2 linked regions of the Homo sapiens genome follow. The protein of the gene in region 1 interacts with the protein of each later gene in a biochemical or structural test. Each region holds a gene or a part of one and is shown in the gene's direction. Other genes may lie near its edges.

What was found. The genes of interacting proteins can lie anywhere in the genome.
Region 2: the proteins of FGFR2 (region 1) and FGF17 interact in a test that uses a peptide from one of them, tested with the Homo sapiens proteins (one study listed by BioGRID).

What each region holds. Positions count from the first base shown.
Region 1 is NC_000010.11:121,480,113-121,483,446, reverse strand, and holds part of FGFR2 (fibroblast growth factor receptor 2 isoform 1 precursor), read left to right. Parts: intron 1-1,269; coding exon of another isoform or gene 1,270-1,275; exon of another isoform or gene 1,276-1,623; intron 1,624-3,333; coding exon of another isoform or gene 3,334-3,334. UniProt on the Homo sapiens protein: Tyrosine-protein kinase that acts as a cell-surface receptor for fibroblast growth factors and plays an essential role in the regulation of cell proliferation, differentiation, migration and apoptosis, and in the regulation of embryonic development.
Region 2 is NC_000008.11:22,045,647-22,049,309, forward strand, and holds the end of FGF17 (fibroblast growth factor 17 isoform 1 precursor), read left to right. Parts: exon of another isoform or gene 1-326; coding exon of another isoform or gene 327-467; coding exon 468-645; intron 646-880; coding exon 881-987; intron 988-2,309; coding exon 2,310-2,603; 3' UTR 2,604-3,163; downstream 3,164-3,663. UniProt on the Homo sapiens protein: Plays an important role in the regulation of embryonic development and as signaling molecule in the induction and patterning of the embryonic brain. Required for normal brain development.

The sequences.
Region 1 (3,334 bases):
CTGGTGGAGCAGTCCGGGGTATGTGGGAGAGTGGGAAAGGGGAAGCAGTATTCACTTGCATTTTGGTGTGCATGGGAAAAAGCTTGGATTCCTGTGCAAGTTTGATTCTGTGCTTTGGTCATTAGTGGGTAAACTGATAATGTTCGTCATCATTTGCTTGATGGAATACAATGAAGTTTTCTAACACCAGCTTCTGTTACCACAGTACTATCCTATGTGATCCTGTTGGTAATGCTATATGCCTTGCAGCCTCTTTCTAGGTGTATATAAACATACACTGTTTTCTACAATGAGCAACTTACATGATTTTTACATAAAAACATGTACCTTTTGTTAAAATATTTATTTTCCCTAAAATATTTATGCTCTCGCCTGTAATCCCAGCATTTTGGGAAGCCGAGGAGGGCAGATCACCTGAGGCCAGGAGTTCGAGAGCAGCCTGGCCAACATGGCGAAACCCTGTCTCTACTAAAAATACAAAAATTAGTTGGATGTGGTGGTATGTGCCTGTAATCCCAGCTACTTAGGAGGCGAGGTAGGGGAATCGCTTGAACCCAGGAGGTGAAGTTTGCAGTGACTGAGATTGCGCCACTGCACTCCAGTCTGGGAGACAGAGCAAGACTTCATCTCAAAAAGAAAATAATAATAATTTATGATCCTTGCCAACAAAATAAACACTCGTCTGTCACTCACTGTGCAAATTTAGCCATGTCAGTGGCTCCTTCAATATGCAGATAGAGTGCCTTTTATAATTATGGAAAGCATATGCTCTGAGCAGGAAAGATGATAAACCCATCAAGTCTAGTCAAATCTTAAGATAGAGAAATTGTTAATGAATGTATTTTGAGATATTTAATGAGGATGCACAATAGTGTTCTTTTACACAGGAAACTAACTCCAAACCATGCAATTGTCTCAACAAGAAAAAAGTTAAAGTCCCCCAAGTATTTTAGAAGGAAAATAATACACTTAATTTCTGATTTAGGAAATAGTTTTAGAGTGATTTTTTAAAAAGTAATAATCAAATGTAGTGATATGAAGTCTTAGCTCAGCAGCTTTATCTTATGCGTCTGACTGTGGCCTGTGCTGGATAAAGGAAGAGATTGCACTTAAATGAATACAGCTGACCTTCAGAAGTTGAAAGGAAAGGAACGGTTCAAGGGGGGGAAGAAACCAACTTTCTTCTTCTGCCAAAATTGTTGTTTCTAGTATAAGTTCCTTTAACTGTAGACTTGGAATCTACTGATATCCCTGTTTTTTTCCTATCAGATCTGAAAGTTTATGGCTTCATTGAGAAACTGGGAAAAGTTGGTCAGGCGCAGTGGCTCATGCCTGTAATCCCAGCACTTTGGGAGGCCGAGGCAGGCGGATCATGAGGTCAGGAGTTCCAGACCAGCCTGGCCAACATGGTGAAACCCTGTCTCTACTAAAGATACAAAAAATTAGCCGGGCGTGTTGGTGTGCACCTGTAATCCCAGCTACTCCGGGAGGCTGAGGCAGGAGAGTCACTTGAACCGGGGAGGCGGAGGTTGCAGTGAGCCGAGATCATGCCATTGCATTCCAGCCTTGGCGACAGAGCGAGACTCCGTCTCAAAAAAAAAAAAAATAAAAATAAAAAAGAAAGAAACCGGGAAAAGCACTAAAGTTCTATTTTAATGATCTCATGTCTATGCTCAAAGTGATTTATTTATATATTTACATGTAGAGTGGGTCCGTTGATACTGAAATTTGTATCTAGTACCCTAAAATAAAAAAGCAGAATGCCATATTGTCTGGTGGATATAAAAATCGAAGTTTCTTTCCTTCTGAAAATCATTACCATATGCTCAAGAAAAACGGTTCCATTTAGGACAAAATTTCGTTTTTATCATTGTAAGCAAAAAGTTCTCTTTTGATGTGGTGGGCGTGTTTGTTTCCAGTTGTGTGGTTAATGCTGATGTTGTTGGAACTGATACATTCCCCTTCTGGGATGCTGGGATGGGGACTCTTTCTCTTGCCAACCCTGGTGATGAATTAGAGGGTTTTGTGTGTGTGTGTGTGTGTGTGTGTGTGTGTGTCTTTAAAAATGTCTAGTTGCCAACATTCCATGGGCTCTTTTCTGATAACACTGAGGCTGTTTGTGCTGTGGTCTGCACTTTTTGCCCCCTCTCAGCAAAACCACATGTCATAGAATAGTTGTTGGCTTCTGGATGTGTGAGCAGAACTGCCCCACTGTGCCAGCCCAGTGGAGGCAGAGAGACCCACAAGTTCCCAATTTAGAAAGCTTTTCATAGCTTCAGAACAGGGGTCGGCAACTGCTTTCTGTAAAGGGCCAGGGAGTAAATATTTTCAGCTTTGCCGGCCCTGTGGTCTCTGTTGCAACTTCGCCACTGTAGCCTCAAAGTAGCCACAGACAATATGTAAATAGATGTGTTCTAGTCTGTCTTCTAGTAAAATTTTATGGATCCTGAAATTGGAATTTTATATAATTGTATATAAATTTTATTCATTTTAATCCTATAAGATATTCTTCTTCTTTTGATTTTTTTTTTCAACCGCTTACCAATGTTAAAGACCATCTTTAGCCCTCAGGCCATACAAAGTCGTCTGTGGGCACCCAAGTCGGAGGAAGTGTCACCCTGGGGTGATCCAGAGGGCTTTTTGCAGCACCAGCACTGGATGCCTTGGGGAGCAAAGGACACTTTCTGAATCTCGAACCTTCAAAACTTTGAAACTTAACCGATATTTTCCTGAAGTTTCCTTTAACAGTGCATTATGGATTTAACATACATGAGTATGTCTAAGCCTTTTTTGAACCTGTTTACATTTTCAACTCGGAGAGCTTCTGAGAGTAATCAGTTACATCTGTTAAATTACCCACTGAATGAAGAAGTATTCCCCTTCAATTATCCCCGAAACTACAATAGTAAAATGTAATTCAGAAAATAAATATTCATAGTCTCAACTACTTAAAGGGGGTCTGGGGACCCACAACATGTTACCGGTTTTCATTTTGCTGGGGCTCGCATTTGAAGCAAGGGCTCTAGTGAGGAGGTGGTGTAGACTCAGCGGGTTATTTAGGTCCGTGTGAAGCCGAGTTGCCTGCCCAGCACCTATAGCTCAACTAGGTTTTATTGTTCTCTACCTGTCAATAGTTGATTTATGATGGATTCCAAGAGAAAAGCTAAGGACAGCCTGGGGTACATCAGACGTGGTCTCAGGGAGGTCTTCGTGGAAGTCAGGTGGGCTGGGTCTCTGTTCACCTTCTAGGGGTCTCCTGTCCTGTCCCACGTCCAATACCCACATCTCAAGAGTTTGTGTTTGAAATAAAACTCTTCTCTTCCCTTCTTTCAGG
Region 2 (3,663 bases), on another chromosome or scaffold:
AGGCCAGTGGGGAGGATGAGGAAGGAATCTGGTTGTCCTGGCTAATGGAGCATGTCCTTGGAGTTCTGGGGGAGATGACAGGCTCTGGTCTAAGAGGTAGGGACAGGGGTTCTGTCCCTAATGAGCTGTGTGCCCCGTGCACCTCCTTCATAGAATACGAGGACGGGATAGAACCCTGAGGGCTCCTTCCAGCTCCCAGAGTCCTGATTCCAGGGCTGTGCTCTGTCAATAAGTGTCCCCCAGCCTGGGCAGACCCCAGTCCCTTCTGTAAGGTAGACGCAAAGCAAAGAGGTTATGACCGGCTCACCCAGGGGCCTGGGAAGGCTATGGCCATATGCCCACTTCACTCTGCAGGACAAGTGGCCTGTCCCCACTATATTCACCTCCTCACCCCTCTCCCTTGGATGGACCAGTGGTGGTGTCACCCAAAGCAAATTGACACTATTTTTCCCTTGGTAACCGCAAAGGGGGAGAATCACCCGTCTCCTAATTTTAACCAGTACGTGAGGGACCAGGGCGCCATGACCGACCAGCTGAGCAGGCGGCAGATCCGCGAGTACCAACTCTACAGCAGGACCAGTGGCAAGCACGTGCAGGTCACCGGGCGTCGCATCTCCGCCACCGCCGAGGACGGCAACAAGTTTGGTGAGAGTTGGCCCTCCCCCCAGGGCACCCACACCTCCACTCTGCCTCACTTCCACCCTGCCTCACCTCCTGGTCCATCCCCAGATCCTGTGTCAGGGCTGAGGGCCCCAAGGGCCTGAGTGTCCCCAACCCCTTCGCCTGAGTCTGGAGGTCAGTGTGGCTGGGTGGTCCCCTGCTGTAGCCATAGGCCGGCAGCCCCGATGGACGGAGGTCTTTCTCCCCTCCCCCACCACAGCCAAGCTCATAGTGGAGACGGACACGTTTGGCAGCCGGGTTCGCATCAAAGGGGCTGAGAGTGAGAAGTACATCTGTATGAACAAGAGGGGCAAGCTCATCGGGAAGGTGAGGCTGGGAGACTGGGAAGTAACAGAGAATCAGCCCTACTGGGGTGGGGACATATAGGGCATCATGCTCCCCTCTCTCCTCTGAGCCACACACCCTCCTGTGTAAAGACTTCCCATCCTACTCTCAGCCCACCCACTGGGCCACTCTCTGGTTTTTATTTTAGAGTCCGGGTCTTGCTCTGCTACCTAGGCTGGAGTGCAGTGGCACAATCATAGCCCACTGCAGCTTTGTACTCCTGGGCTCAAGCAATCCTCTCGCCTCAGCCTCTGAAGTAGTAGCTGGCACTATAGGTGCATGCCACCATGCCCAGCTAATTTTTTTTTTTTTTTTTGTAGAGATAGGGCCTCACTATGTTGCCCTGGCTGGTCTCAAACTCACGGGCTAAAGCGATCCTCCCACCTCAGCCTCCCAAAGTGCTGGGATTACAGGCGTGAGCCACGGAGCCCGGCCTGGTTTCTCTATTTAAATGAGTCCCCGGGACTCTATTAGCCCTCTGAGGGGACTGGCAAGCCACTGGGATCTGTGGGGCTGATGTCAGGAGTATTTCTCCAGCAGGCATCAGTAAGAGCTTAGCATCTACCTGACACTGCAGCCTCTGGGTGGAGGACTAAGAGCTGTTGAGGGTGGAAAGTGGGGCACAGATGTAAGACAGGAACTCCCCCAAGTTCAGTGGGGCCAGTGGGCTCCAGCTAGCAAGATAGACACTAAGCAGCTGCCCCTGTGACCAAAGCACACGGTAGGCCGGGCCCTGCTGGGTGGGAGAATTCCACTTCGTTTGAAACCAGGCAATCCCAGCTTCCCATTCGGCTGTCGCTGACCAAATAACCTTTGGTTTGCTTATCTTTGTCAAGCCTCAGGCTTCTTGTCTGTAGAAATGGGCACAGACCCCTGATTGCAGACAGAGTGGGATGGGTGGCTGCACTGGCACCCTTCTTTCTTCTCATTGGAGGCTGCTGCCTCCTCTCCCATGCCCAGCAGCACCCCTCACCTAGGCTGCATGAGCATTTCAGTGCTAAGGGCCCGTGCATGCTGGGAAATGCCGCAGGTCCTTGATCTTCACCTACATCTCAGGAAGCTGAGGCCCAGCCTGGTTCAGGACCGCTAAACGACAAGCCTGCAACTCAGATCCACAAAGCGTGTTCTTGTTGGCCACTGTTGCCTCTCTAAATAGGATGCCATCTCACCAGGCAGAGTTCCCTGGGCTCACGGCCCCGTTGTTCCCGTTGTCCCTCCTCAGTCGTCCAAAATAGGCCGTAAGGGCGACACCCCAGACCAGGGTAGGTGGACAAATGCCCTTCCTGTCCTTGCTTCTCCCGCAGCCCAGCGGGAAGAGCAAAGACTGCGTGTTCACGGAGATCGTGCTGGAGAACAACTATACGGCCTTCCAGAACGCCCGGCACGAGGGCTGGTTCATGGCCTTCACGCGGCAGGGGCGGCCCCGCCAGGCTTCCCGCAGCCGCCAGAACCAGCGCGAGGCCCACTTCATCAAGCGCCTCTACCAAGGCCAGCTGCCCTTCCCCAACCACGCCGAGAAGCAGAAGCAGTTCGAGTTTGTGGGCTCCGCCCCCACCCGCCGGACCAAGCGCACACGGCGGCCCCAGCCCCTCACGTAGTCTGGGAGGCAGGGGGCAGCAGCCCCTGGGCCGCCTCCCCACCCCTTTCCCTTCTTAATCCAAGGACTGGGCTGGGGTGGCGGGAGGGGAGCCAGATCCCCGAGGGAGGACCCTGAGGGCCGCGAAGCATCCGAGCCCCCAGCTGGGAAGGGGCAGGCCGGTGCCCCAGGGGCGGCTGGCACAGTGCCCCCTTCCCGGACGGGTGGCAGGCCCTGGAGAGGAACTGAGTGTCACCCTGATCTCAGGCCACCAGCCTCTGCCGGCCTCCCAGCCGGGCTCCTGAAGCCCGCTGAAAGGTCAGCGACTGAAGGCCTTGCAGACAACCGTCTGGAGGTGGCTGTCCTCAAAATCTGCTTCTCGGATCTCCCTCAGTCTGCCCCCAGCCCCCAAACTCCTCCTGGCTAGACTGTAGGAAGGGACTTTTGTTTGTTTGTTTGTTTCAGGAAAAAAGAAAGGGAGAGAGAGGAAAATAGAGGGTTGTCCACTCCTCACATTCCACGACCCAGGCCTGCACCCCACCCCCAACTCCCAGCCCCGGAATAAAACCATTTTCCTGCAAATGGGTTATCTGAAGCGGGGCGGGGGATCCGACCACCGAACACCCCTGGAAACGAGCCTGCCCGTCCCCGGCCGGGCGTGGCCACGGCAGGTGCAGGCGCGGCCCGCAGCGCTGGGGCCCCCAGGAGGCCGCGGGCTCGGCCCCGCGGGAGGCGGGCGCGTCCAGGCCGGGCGGCCCCTCCCTGGCGCGGGCTCGGGTTTCCTGGGCTCGCGCGGCGCGGCCCGTGCTACCTGTTGGGGAAGAAAACCCGAGCCCCCGGAGGGGCCGGGGCCGGGGCCGGGACGTGCATCCAGCCGGGCCCCGGGCCCCAGGCCCCAGGCCCGAGGCGCAGGCGAGGGCCCTGCGGAGCCCGGCGGAGCCCGGGCGGCCCGCGGACGCCAGGAGCCTCCTCGGGCAGCGAGATTGCTTTTTTTCCGGTGAGGAGGGCGGGGGCGGGAAGCGGGGTTGGGCGGCCGGAAGGGGGGAGGGGGCGAGAAGGCGTCCCCTGTCCTCCCGGGTCCC